Linked DNA regions of Homo sapiens. The protein of the gene in region 1 purifies or fractionates together with the protein of each later gene. This does not show direct contact. Each region holds a gene or a part of one and is shown in the gene's direction. Other genes may lie near its edges. The genes, in order: ADRB3 and SH3GL3.

What was found.
Region 2: the proteins of ADRB3 (region 1) and SH3GL3 purify together in Homo sapiens (pull-down; one study listed by IntAct). This does not show direct contact.

The regions. Positions count from the first base shown.
Region 1 is NC_000008.11:37,963,650-37,968,084, reverse strand, and holds the start of ADRB3 (beta-3 adrenergic receptor), read left to right. Parts: upstream 1-1,485; 5' UTR 1,486-1,615; coding exon 1,616-2,820; intron 2,821-3,845; coding exon 3,846-3,867; 3' UTR 3,868-4,435. UniProt on the Homo sapiens protein: Beta-adrenergic receptors mediate the catecholamine-induced activation of adenylate cyclase through the action of G proteins. Beta-3 is involved in the regulation of lipolysis and thermogenesis.
Region 2 is NC_000015.10:83,614,798-83,618,605, forward strand, and holds part of SH3GL3 (endophilin-A3), read left to right. Parts: intron 1-3,284; coding exon 3,285-3,490; 3' UTR 3,491-3,808. UniProt on the Homo sapiens protein: Implicated in endocytosis. May recruit other proteins to membranes with high curvature.

The DNA.
Region 1 (4,435 bases):
GCAACCTCTGCCTCCCAGGTTCAAGAGATTCTCCTGCCTCAGCCTCTTGAGTAGCTGGGATTACAGGCATGCGCCACCACACCTGGCTAATTTTTTTTTTTTTTTTTTGTATTTTTAGTAGAGACAGGGTTTCTCCTTGTTGTTCAGGCTGGTCTTGAACTCCTGACCTCAGGTGATCTGCCCACCTCGACCTCCCAAAGTGCTGGGATTACAGGCGTGAGCCACCGCGCCCACCTGTTGATTCATCCATTTTTAATATGTCTTTATAGCAGAAAGATTTTAAGAGAAGGGGCTATCTAGAAAATCTCTAGGTGGAAAGGTGCATGGAAGGGGCAGTGCAGAGTGGGGAAGATGGAGAAATTGAAATTCTTCAGCATCCCAGACTACATAGTGCCAAATCCAAATGCAAATCCAGAGCTAGCAATGAAAAAGACTCCTGGCCGGGCGCGATGGCTCACGCCTGTAATCCCAGCACTTTGGGAGGCCGAGGCGGGCGGATCACGAGGTCAGGAGATCGAGACCATCCTGGCCAACATGGTGAAACCCCGTCTCTACTAAAAATATAAAAATTAGTTGGGCATGCTGGCGGGTGCCTGCAGTCCCAGCTACTTGGGAGGCTGAGGCAGGAGAAGCGCTTGAACCCGGGAGGTGGAGATTGCAGTGAGCAGACATCACATCATTGCACTCCAGCCTCCAGCCTGGGTGACAGAGCGAGACGCCGTCTCAAAAAAAAAAAAAAAAAGAAAAGAAAAAGAAAAAGACTCCTGAGCCTCCTAGTGGTTCACGCCTGCAATTCCAACTACTCAGGAGGCTGGGACAGGAGGGTGGCTTGAGCCCGGGAGTTCAAAGCCAGCCTGGGAAAAATAGAGAGAGAGAGAGACTTGAAATATGGTAAATTTCCTCAGTACCTGAAAATATTAAAAAAAACAAAAAGCTAGAAGGAAAGAGAAGGTAACTGAAACAGAAGGGAAAGGGGACAGATCTCACCAAGCTGAGGTCTTGGGAGAGGAGATACTGGCTGAGCCCTATTACTTAATTTAAAATACCTTAGGGGAGGCCACCCAAGTGGATGCGGGGCTCCTGTGAATCCTTTGCTTGACTCCAGCGGGTTACCTTTGCCTCTGATACATAAAGGGTGGGGATGGGAGCGCTCTCCTCTCTCCTTCCCCTGCCTTGCTGTGGGAACTTCTGGGAAAGGAGGTGCAGGGCTCCAGGAAGCCAGTGCCCAGGGAGTGCTATGCTGAGTCCAGGAGCCTGGCCACGGCAGGGGTGGACAGATGGTGGCAGAGGAACCACGGTGTCCCTTCCTCCAGATTTAGCTAAAGGAAACGTGGAGCATCCCATTGGCCATCCTCCCCACTCTCCAATTCGGCTCCAGAGGCCCCTCCAGACTATAGGCAGCTGCCCCTTTAAGCGTCGCTACTCCTCCCCCAAGAGCGGTGGCACCGAGGGAGTTGGGGTGGGGGGAGGCTGAGCGCTCTGGCTGGGACAGCTAGAGAAGATGGCCCAGGCTGGGGAAGTCGCTCTCATGCCTTGCTGTCCCCTCCCCTGAGCCAGGTGATTTGGGAGACCCCCTCCTTCCTTCTTTCCCTACCGCCCCACGCGCGACCCGGGGATGGCTCCGTGGCCTCACGAGAACAGCTCTCTTGCCCCATGGCCGGACCTCCCCACCCTGGCGCCCAATACCGCCAACACCAGTGGGCTGCCAGGGGTTCCGTGGGAGGCGGCCCTAGCCGGGGCCCTGCTGGCGCTGGCGGTGCTGGCCACCGTGGGAGGCAACCTGCTGGTCATCGTGGCCATCGCCTGGACTCCGAGACTCCAGACCATGACCAACGTGTTCGTGACTTCGCTGGCCGCAGCCGACCTGGTGATGGGACTCCTGGTGGTGCCGCCGGCGGCCACCTTGGCGCTGACTGGCCACTGGCCGTTGGGCGCCACTGGCTGCGAGCTGTGGACCTCGGTGGACGTGCTGTGTGTGACCGCCAGCATCGAAACCCTGTGCGCCCTGGCCGTGGACCGCTACCTGGCTGTGACCAACCCGCTGCGTTACGGCGCACTGGTCACCAAGCGCTGCGCCCGGACAGCTGTGGTCCTGGTGTGGGTCGTGTCGGCCGCGGTGTCGTTTGCGCCCATCATGAGCCAGTGGTGGCGCGTAGGGGCCGACGCCGAGGCGCAGCGCTGCCACTCCAACCCGCGCTGCTGTGCCTTCGCCTCCAACATGCCCTACGTGCTGCTGTCCTCCTCCGTCTCCTTCTACCTTCCTCTTCTCGTGATGCTCTTCGTCTACGCGCGGGTTTTCGTGGTGGCTACGCGCCAGCTGCGCTTGCTGCGCGGGGAGCTGGGCCGCTTTCCGCCCGAGGAGTCTCCGCCGGCGCCGTCGCGCTCTCTGGCCCCGGCCCCGGTGGGGACGTGCGCTCCGCCCGAAGGGGTGCCCGCCTGCGGCCGGCGGCCCGCGCGCCTCCTGCCTCTCCGGGAACACCGGGCCCTGTGCACCTTGGGTCTCATCATGGGCACCTTCACTCTCTGCTGGTTGCCCTTCTTTCTGGCCAACGTGCTGCGCGCCCTGGGGGGCCCCTCTCTAGTCCCGGGCCCGGCTTTCCTTGCCCTGAACTGGCTAGGTTATGCCAATTCTGCCTTCAACCCGCTCATCTACTGCCGCAGCCCGGACTTTCGCAGCGCCTTCCGCCGTCTTCTGTGCCGCTGCGGCCGTCGCCTGCCTCCGGAGCCCTGCGCCGCCGCCCGCCCGGCCCTCTTCCCCTCGGGCGTTCCTGCGGCCCGGAGCAGCCCAGCGCAGCCCAGGCTTTGCCAACGGCTCGACGGGTAGGTAACCGGGGCAGAGGGACCGGCGGCTCAGGGTCGGGAAGCATGCGATGTGTCCGTGGGTCAACTTTTTGAGTGTGGAGTTTATTAAGAGAAGGTGGGATGGCTTTGCTTGGAGAGAAAAGGGAACGAGGAGTAGCGAACCAAAATGGGACCCAGGGTCCTTTTCTTTCCGGATCCAGTCACTAGGGTAGAAGCAAAGGAGGGCGAGCGGGCCGTCGTTCCTCACCCAAGGACCCAAGGTGCGCCACCGGAAAGCGCTGCGGTGTCCCGAGGACTCTCGCCTCGCCTGGTCGGCTTTAGGGATTTTTTTTTTTTTTAAATAGAGACAGGGTTTCGTCTCTGTCGCCCACGCGGGAATGCAGTGGCGCGATCTCAGCTCACTGCAGTCTTGAACTCCTGGCTCCTGGGCTCAAGCGATCCTCCCACCTCAGCCTCCTGAGTATCTGGGACTACAGGCGAGCCCCACCAATCCCAGCTATTTTTAAAATTTCTTGTAGAGATGGGGTCTTGCTATGTTGCCCAGGCTTGTCTTGAACTTCTGGCCTCAAGTGATCCTTCTGCCTCAGCCTTCCAAAGCATTAGGATTACAGGCCGGAGCCAGGGCGCCGGGTCGGCTCTAGTTTTGGTTTTCCAGCTCAGTTCTTTGCCCCCCTCCCCCGATTTCTTGCCATCACTAGACCTGGCTCGGACTTGAAGGCAGGGCTAGTGCCCCCCCACCCGCCCCCCAAGCCCTCGGCCTCAGTTCTGGGTTTTCTCAAAGGTTTGACAGCTGTGGAGGTGAGAATCCACTTCCGGTATGAAGTACAGTTGTGAGTGAGGAGCCTGTGAGTGCAGATGTGTGCCCTCCCGCTCCCTGGGCTGGGTTGGAGTAGGGATGGGGTGGGGCGTGTGTGGCTGGGTGGTGCCCTGGCGTTTTTGTGTAACTAAATATGCGTTCCAGGGTCTCTGATCTCTGTCATTCCCCTCAGTGCACCTGTTGCTCCTTTCACCCCAGGGTCTATTATCTCCACTTTTTTTCCCAGGGCTTCTTGGGGAGTTTCTTAGGCCTGAAGGACAAGAAGCAACAACTCTGTTGATCAGAACCTGTGGAAAACCTCTGGCCTCTGTTCAGAATGAGTCCCATGGGATTCCCCGGCTGTGACACTCTACCCTCCAGAACCTGACGACTGGGCCATGTGACCCAAGGAGGGATCCTTACCAAGTGGGTTTTCACCATCCTCTTGCTCTCTGTCTGAGAGATGTTTTCTAAACCCCAGCCTTGAACTTCACTCCTCCCTCAGTGGTAGTGTCCAGGTGCCGTGGAGCAGCAGGCTGGCTTTGGTAGGGGCACCCATCACCCGGCTTGCCTGTGCAGTCAGTGAGTGCTTAGGGCAAAGAGAGCTCCCCTGGTTCCATTCCTTCTGCCACCCAAACCCTGATGAGACCTTAGTGTTCTCCAGGCTCTGTGGCCCAGGCTGAGAGCAGCAGGGTAGAAAAGACCAAGATTTGGGGTTTTATCTCTGGTTCCCTTATTACTGCTCTCAAGCAGTGGCCTCTCTCACTTTAGCCATGGAATGGCTCCGATCTACCTCACAGCAGTGTCAGAAGGACTTCGCCAGGGTTTTGGGAGCTC
Region 2 (3,808 bases), on another chromosome or scaffold:
ACTATAATATAATCCTTCTCACAACAGGAATCTCCATTGCCCCAACTCTTGTCTTCCTCCTCCCATAATGCTGTCACCTCTCTACCCCTCCCCAGGACAAAGGGGCATCTCATTTGGCCAGCCACAGAAATACCCCAACGTACCTATTCTCTTTACTTGGACCTAGAAGACTTAGTGGAGAAAGAACATAATCTCTAGCAGAACTTGTTCAATTCTCACTTGAAGTCTAGAGGGAGGAAAAAGTCTTATAACAGAAAAAGGAAATAAAAATGGAAATCATCAAATAGGATGGCAAAAGTCACTTATTAAGAAAAAAAAAAACTCCTAAGATTAATCTTATTAATACTCAAAGAAAAAAAGTATGAACTAGTCAAAATTGAAGTGAGATTTTTGTGAGAGAAATGTGTCATATTAATACTGAAATATACCTAGTTAAATGAATTCATGAGAATAGCAAGGAAATATTGAAATAGAAGGGTAATGACTATGAACTAGTTTTACTAGTTATTAACATTTTATTTATTTATTTATTTTTGAGATGGAGTCTCACTCTGTCACCCAGGCTGGAGTGTAGTGGTGTGATCTCAGCTCACTGCAACCTCCGCCTCCCAGGTTCAAGTGATCCTCCTGCCTCAGCCTCTTGAGTAGCTGGGATTACAGACATGCGCTACCATGCCTGGCTAACTTTTGTATTTTTAGAGATGGGGTTTCACCATGTTGGCCAGGGTGGTCTCAAACTCCTGGCCTCAAGTGAACTGCCCGCCTTGGCCTCCCAGAGTGCTGGGATTACAGGTGTGAGCCACCACACCCGGCCTGTTAACATTTATTATAAAGCCACAGTATTTAAAATGATATGGTACTGTTACCAAAATGAGTCAGTGGGACAAAATAGAAAAAATCCAAAAATAGATCTAAGTCCCATGATGATTAAATATATGATAAAGATAAAGGCAATACTTGAAATCACTGGAGAAAATATGGATTATTTAAGTATGTTGTTATGACTGCATAAGCATTATTAAATATAATAGATATTTACCTCATTTTGCCAAAATCCAAATAGATTATAAAAGTTCTGATGTGAAAAAAATTAAATAAAAATACTAGAATAAAATTTAGTTGAGTCTTTATATAGGACTGTGGAGAATAAACCATGAATAGAAAGTTTGATTAGTTTGACTGCTTATACTCTTCAATTTGTGCATTCATGCCAAAACAAAATAGAAACCCCTTTCCCTGCCCCACTGCCAGCACAAACTTCAAAAACAAAATGAGAAAAAAAAAGAACAGATGATAAGTTGGGAATAATGTTTGTACCAGAAATGACAGATAAAGGGTAAATATGTGTAGTATAAAGGGACTTCTAAACATCTTAAGAAAAATAGTGATATTAGGTTGGTGCAAAAGTAATTGCAGGTTTTGCCACTAAAAGTAATGGTAAAAATTGTGATTGCTTTTTTTTTTTTTTTTTTTGAGATGGAGTCTTGCTCTGTCCCCCAGGCTGGAGTGCGGTGGCGCGATCTTGGCTCACTGCAACCTCCGCCTTCCGGGTTCACGCCATTCTCCTGCCTCAGCCTCTCCAAGTAGCTGGGACTACAGGTGCCCGCCACCACGCCCGGCTAATTTTTTTGTATTTTTAGTAGAGACAGGGTTTCACTGTGTTCTCGATCTCCTGAACTCGTGATCCGCCCGCCTCAGCCTCCCAAAGTGCTGGGATTACAAGCGTGAGCCACTGCGCCTGGCCACTGTGATTGCTTTTGCACCAACCTAATAGAAAAATAAATTGACACTAAATGTCAGATATTTTAGAAAGAATTCATGTTCTATGACCATGAAATCCTTTTCTTGGAATTTATCCTCAGAAATTAATAGTGCACATTTGTAGATATTTATGTATAAGCTCTTTTTCCCAAAGAATTGTCTATAAAAGCCAAGGGGGAATAAAAGAGACAACAGAAAGAAATGAAGAAAAAGGAAGAGAAATCGAGAAAAACAGGGAGGGAGAAGGAAGAAAAGAATGAAGGAAGGAAGGAAAAGAAGAGATGAAAAGAAGAGAAGGAAGGAAAAGAAAGAAGAACCGTAAATGTCCAACAATAGGAGATTAGTTGAAGAAATGTTACATTGTGAGAGCTGACAGCTAGTCAGTAACTAAAATTGAAAGATATTCACCCTAGCTTGTACAAGAAGAATCTTTTATGAAAACAACTATATGTAAATATATGCACAAATATAATCATGAAGACATCTGGAATCTGAAAGCTAGCCCAGTTATCTCTGGGGTAATGGTTTACAGCTCTGACTTTTCTTTCTCCACTTTGCATACATGTATTTTTTGTTTACAATTAGCATGATTTTGTTTTGAAAAAAATGTTTTTGATGTTATTCTGGGACTAGATGTCAGTAAATATTCTTGTCTGTAAATTCTGGTCTGTAAATATTCTTGCCTTTCTTGTCCTGGTTTCTCTCCTCCCGGCCCTTGTCCTGCCCATTAACTAGGAAGATCTTGCTGACCACCAAGGTCCTCCCTACTACCCTCTCCCCAGAGCTCCTGAACCATGAGTGATACACACTTCATATTTGTTCTTTAAAAGATTTTTGGCCATGCACAGTGGATCACGCCTGTAATCCCCACACTTTGGGAGGTTGAGGTGAGCAGATCACTTAAGGCCAGGAGTTCGAGACCAGACTGGCCAATATGGTGAAACCCCACCTGTACTAAAAATACAAAATTAGCTGGGCGTGGTGGCGCATGCCTGTAGTCCCAGCTGCTTGGGAGGCTGAGGCACGAAAATTTCTTGAACCTGGGAGGCAGAGGTTACAGTAAGCCAGGATCGCACCATTGCACTCCAGCCTGGGCAACAGAGCAAGACTCTGTCTCAAAAATAGATAAATAAATAAATAAAAGTTTCTCGTGTATTTTCTAATCCCCACAAAGAAACTGTAAGCTCCCAGAGAGAAGGAGGTGGGCCTGTGATTCCTCTGTCGCTCCCTTAGGGCTCCAGGTGGAGCTGACTGGCTGCTTTTGGGAGATGGGCTGGGCACGACTTCTCTGCCTGGGAGTATTGAAAAGATAGACTCTGGGCTCATGGGGTTGGCGCAGGCAGCTGGGAGAGCTGAGGCAGCCAGAGACCACAAACGGCACCGTGAGCTGGGTGGAGCTGGCCTTGTGGGAAGGAAGCAAGGCCTGCTGTTAAGGGTCTCTCTGAGCTTTTCCACATTTCCAATTTCCCATGGATAATCCATCATGTTCATCTGTACTTTTTGTCTCCATATCATGTGGACAGGTTCTAACATTCCCATGGACCAGCCCTGCTGTCGTGGTCTCTATGACTTTGAGCCAGAAAACCAAGGAGAATTAGGATTTAAAGAAGGGGACATCATTACATTAACCAATCAAATAGATGAAAACTGGTATGAAGGAATGATACACGGAGAATCGGGATTCTTCCCCATTAATTACGTGGAAGTGATCGTGCCTTTACCTCAGTAAATGTGTAACACAAACTCTGGACATACTTTCGTAACTGAAATGAATTCACACCAGTGTGCTCTCAGTGCGGTGTTCTGTGACATCCTTTGCTCTCTGACCAACTTAATGACTTTTGTATGTGTGCTCTCTTTATAATGTATTTTATATCACTTTAATTTGTATAAATGATTTTCTTGTCCTTGCTACATGAAAATATTTTCTTTTTTGCTTCCTGTCCTAAAAGTCATTGGTTAAATGTATTTGCTTCCTGTGGCTAAAAATAAGTCTCACCCATTGCAGTTATGTCAACGAATGGCCTATATTCCTCAGCTGCAATGA